2 separate regions of the Homo sapiens genome follow, and region 2 is linked to region 1. Evidence: fine-mapped expression QTL. Tissue or cell type: whole blood. Region 1 holds a variant in brackets; the other region holds the start of a gene. All regions are shown on one strand. Distances are between the middles of the regions.

The links. PIP is the estimated chance that this variant, and not a neighbour inherited with it, causes the effect.
Region 2: VPS53 starts here. The variant in region 1 is fine-mapped to the expression of VPS53 in whole blood (TOPMed, PIP 0.97).

The regions. Positions count from the first base shown.
Region 1 is chr17:533,246-535,745 of GRCh38, reverse strand. All of the region lies in intron 18 of VPS53 (VPS53 subunit of GARP complex), which reads left to right. All of the region lies in intron 1 of VPS53-AS1 (VPS53 antisense RNA 1), which reads right to left. Among named protein-coding and RNA genes, the nearest start is that of VPS53-AS1, 12 kb to the right of the region's middle. The variant G/A (reference allele first, on the strand shown) is at 960.
Region 2 is chr17:713,331-715,830 of GRCh38, reverse strand. It overlaps VPS53 (VPS53 subunit of GARP complex), which reads left to right and starts at 992. Exons shown (of 22, transcript NM_001128159.3): 1 at 992-1,208. The coding sequence starts at 1,122. RefSeq lists an enhancer at 451-520.

The DNA of each region.
Region 1 (2,500 bases):
GAGGTGAAATTCCCTCACTCTCTGGGTGCTCATTAGTGTGTTAGAAATGTTGCTGATAAATCACATCGTGACGCTCCCCATAACTGCTGGTAGAAGCAGTGTCTCTGTAAAAATTTACTGTGACTCAAAATCTCCAGGGTGGCTGCTCCGGGGTCTCATTGAGCTTACGTTAAAGTGAAGGAGGAGTCCGTTGACTTAGCCAGTCCCAGCGTCTCCCAGCTCAGTCATATGATTGAGCTTACATTAAAGTGAAGGAGGAGTCTGTTGACTTAGCCAGTCCCGGCGTCTCCCTGCTCAGTCATATGATTGAGCTTACATTAAAGCGAAGGAGGAGTCCGTTGACTTAGCCAGTCCCGGCGTCTCCCAGCTCAGTCATATGATTGAGCTTACGTTAAAGTGAAGGAGGAGTCGGTTGACTTAGCCAGTCCCAGCATCTCCCAGCATCAGCCTCACATTCTCTCAGAGCCCTTGAGTTTCATTGCTAAGCCCAGGTTGAGTGCGCTGGGAATTGGATGCCCCCCCTCACATCTGTAATCATTCAGCCTGGGATCTAGGAAGTGGTTTTCTGTTTTCATCCATGGTGCCTTCTCATCCTGCTAAAATCCCGCTTAACAGAGGTGGGCTTGTGAGGAGACCCTTCCCTGGTCAAGGGCAGCAGCCACCACCGCCCTGATGGCCCAGAGAAGCCCTTGGCAGTTACCCAGCACATTGCTTGGTTTTTTCCCCACAGGACGTGTGTCAGGTCCTCATACTCCCCCCATCGCCACCTGTAGACTAGTATAGAGAGCCAGTTCAGGGGCACAGCCAAAGGTTTTTTTTTTTTTTTTTGATACAGGGTCCCACTCTGTTACCCAGGCTGGAGTGCAGTGGTGCAACCACAGCTCACTGCAGCCCCCATCTCCTGGGCTTAGGTGATTCTCCCACCTCAGCCTCCTGAATAGCTGGGATTACAGGCGCTC[G/A]CCACCCGGCCTAGCTCATTTTTCTATTTTTTGTAGAGATGAGATTTTGCCATGTTGCCCAGGCTGGTCTCAAACTCCTGGGCTCAAGCAGTCCACCTGCCTGGGCCTCTCAGAGTGCTGGGATTATAGGCATGAGCTGCCATGCCCAGTCCGGAGCATGTTCTAATGTGAAGCAACTTAGGTTACAAAGCGCTGTGTGCACAGCTGCCATTGGTCATGAGTTCAGTTTCATGTTGCTTGTCTGGCTCTGGTTTCCAGCACTGAGGAATTCCTTCCAAATAGCCCCTTGTTTACTCTCCTTCCTGATCACAAGCCACCTCCAGATCCGATCTCCGGACTCCAGTTTCCTCTCCCTCAGCTTCCTTTCTACCCCACCCCTGCAAAACCATAGATGTTTCCTTTTACCTCGTTTGCTGTCTTAAGCAATAGCAGCCTTTCCTGTTGAGACATCAAAATCCACAGCCTGGTTGAAACTGCAGTTGAACCACAAGCAACTTCCCTCATCCACTGAGCTGATCCTCCTCCCTTCAATCAAGGAGATAATGAGACAAATCTCATAATAGTGGTTGGGAAGATAAAATGAGAAGTCACATATTAACTTCCTGGTAAAGTGCTGATACCAAGCTGACATTCAAAAAGTGGTAGGTGGCTGGGCGCGGTGGCTCACGCCTGTCATCCCAGCGCTTTGTGGGGCCGAGGCAAGAGGATCACTTGAGGCCAGGAGTTCGAGACCAGCCTGGCCAACATGGTGAAACCCTATCTCTACTAAAAATACAAAAATTAGCTGGGTATGCTGGTGCGTGCCTGTAGTCCCAGCTACTCAGGAGGCTGAGGCACCAGAATTGCTTGAACCCAGGAGGCAGAGGTTGCAGTGAGCCAAGATGGTGCCACTGTACTCCAGCCTGGGTGACAGAGCGAGACTCTGTCTCAAAAAAAAAAAAAAGTTTATGATTTACTCAATGTGCATTCACTTGAGCATCTCCTATGTCTCAGACCCAGAGTTAAATGTTTTGGCCTGATAAACATGGCCCCCATCTTCGTTTGCCTTAATAGTCAGGTGAAGCAAAATAGACATGTAAGCAAATGAGCATAATGAACTAGGTTAGATGTGAGGGTGGAGGCCTGCAGACTCCATGTAGAGTATGGCGAAGGCAGCAGAAGAAAGGCTTTCTAGAGACGCCGTTGAACAGGATCTGAGAGGTGCGTGTGTACTGACCCACAAGCCCCTTCTAGGAAAGGCAGTCCAGGCGAGGGAGCAGTGTAGGCATTAAATAGCCCCCAGAATCCTGGGATCTGCAAGTGGCTCAGTTGGGTTGAAGCATAGGGAGGCCAGGGCTTAGCAGGATGAGGCTGGAGACAGAGAATGAAGAATCAAGGAAGCCTGGCCCAGTGGCTCACGCTTGTAATCCCAGCACTTCCGGAGCCCAAGGGAGGAGGACTGCTTGAAGCCAGGAGTTTGAGCCCAGCCTGGGCAGCATAACGAAATCCTGCCTCTACAAAAAAATTAAAAAGTAGCCAGGTGCGGTGCCTGTAGCCCTTAC
Region 2 (2,500 bases), 180 kb before region 1:
CATCGCGCTGTTAATGTTTAATCCTCTCCACATCGACGCGGGGTAGTAATTTGTTCCAAGTCACACAACTTATCAATGGTGGACTATTCAGGACTTAGATCCCGGATATTCAACCTCAGTAAACGTCTCCCCAGCTCCAGGGCGCTGCGTCATCTGGCTTTAAAAAAACGTTTCTGGCCGGGCGCAGTAGCTCACGCCTGTCATCCCAGCACTTTGGGAGGCCGAGGCGGGCGGATCACGAGGTCAAGAGTTCGAGACCAGCCTGGCCAACATGGTGAAACCTCGTCTCCACTAAAAATACAAAAATTAGCTGGGCGTGGTGGCGGGCGCCTGTAATCCCAGCTACTCGGGAGGCTGAGACAGGAGAATCGCTTGAACCCAGCAGGCGGGGTTGCAGTGAGCCGAGATCGCGCCGTTGCACTCCAGCCTGGGCAACAAGTAAGACTCCGTCTCAAAAAAAAAAAAAAAAAAAAAAAAGACGTTTCTCCCCATAAGGAGGCTGCAGTCACCTCGAAAAGCTTCTGCGCAGAGCCCGGCGCACGGGGAATTTCTATCGAGTGGGCACTGTCCCGTCCTACGAATGTCCTTGGCGACATCGCCACTCGCCAGCTGGGATCACGTCGCCCCCGTGGCCGGGGACACCCGCTGCCACTGACCGAGGGGGCCCCGGGAGCTGAGAGGTCGCCGCTGCGCTGCCCGCGGAGGCTGTGGGCTGCGGTTGGCGACGCCGCAGGGCTGACTTTCATCCGGGCGTCCTGCTGGAGGCCAGACCCTACCCCAACCTCGGGGTCCTCAGTGCGGGGCGCGCCTTGGGGAGGGAAGAGGCCCCGCCCATCCTAAGGACGCGCTGAGGCCACGCGGGGCCGCCGGGATACTGCGTTGCCCGGGAGACACCTGACGTGACAGGAACGCCGCCAGTCTCAGTCCGCCGTGATCCCACAGTTCCCCGGTCCCGGAAGTGCCCTGGCCTGCCGGAAGTGCCGGAGCGGCTGACAGAGCGGCTGACGGAGCCGGGCTCACCAGGTCGCTGCCGCGAGGGAGTTGCTGTGCTGGGGCCTGGGTGGCGGCTGGAGGCCTGAGTTGGGCTCGCGGCGGGGGTCGGCAGGGGGCCGGGTGGCGGAATGATGGAGGAGGAGGAACTGGAGTTCGTGGAGGAGCTGGAAGCCGTGCTGCAGCTCACGCCCGAGGTGCAGCTGGCCATCGAGCAGGTAAGCGTTCCGCCCCTCAGGAGGGGAAACGGGAGTGCGGGAGGGGAGACGGCAGCTCCGGGCGCTGGGGAGGCCGCGGCGGGTGGACGGAGGGCCGGGGGCTCGCGGCAGAAGGGAAAGTGGAGGTGGGGAGGTGGTGCGGGTGAGAAGCGGTTTCTGAATCAGAAGGAAAGGAAAGAGAACCCTTTCTAGGCTTTGATTGTCTTTGGCGAGGGCTGGGGGTTCTGGTGGTTTTGGGGAAAGGAATTGTGCGCTTAGAGAGGACGACGCTAGGAGAATGCAGGCCTTGGGTGCCATCCTCAGATTCTGGGGACTGTGGGGGCTTCATGCATTTACCAGACTCGTGCCAACGCCCCGGTTTTGCAAGCTGGCACCTCGTGAGTGGCTTGGAACTGGGGGAAGGGAATGACTTTAATTTCTGAAGCGGACGGCAGAGAAGAGAGAAAGTGTTGAAAAATGACATCGTTACCATTCTTAAAAGGTTGAGAATTCCTACCGTTGAATAGTTTGGGTGAGGTTGGAGAATACTCCCAAGGGGCCTCTTTTCCCTTCAGGAACTTTTTTTTTTTTTTTTTTTTGAGACGGATTCTCGCTCTGTCGCCCGGGCTGGAGTGCAACGGCACGATCTCGGCTCACTGCGACCTCCGCCTCCCGAGTTCAAGCGATTCTCCTGTCTCAGCCTCCTGAGTAGCTGTGATTACAGGCGCACGCCACCACACCCGGCTAATTTTTTTTTTTTTTTGGGGTAAAGACGGGGGTTTCACCGTTTTGGCCAGGATGGTCTCGAACTCCTGAGCTCAAGTAACCCGCCCGCCTTGGCCTCCCAAAGTGCTGGGATTACAGGCGTGAGCCACCACGCGCGGCCCTGCCTGCAGGAACTCTTGCCTTTGCAAGTTTATTGAGTTTTTAAGGCTAATGATATTAGAAATAGTGATTTTTTTCTTTTCTTTTTTTCTTTTTTTTTGTTTTCTGAGACGGAGTCTCGCTCTTTCGCCCAGGTTGGAGTGTAGGGGTGCCATCTCGGCTCACTGCAACCTCCGCTTCCAGGTTCAAGTGATTCTCCTGCCTCAGCCTCCTGAGTAGCTGGGACTACAGGCAACCGCTACCATGCCTAGCTAATTTTTGTATTTTTAGTAGAGACCGGGTTTCACCATGTTGGCCAGGCTGGTCTTGAACTCCTGACCTCAGGCTATCCGCCCGCCTCGGCCTCCCAAAGTGCTGGGATTACAGGTGTGAGCCACTGCACCCGGTCAGAAATAGTGATTTCTAATACTGCAGGGTATTGCTCCTGA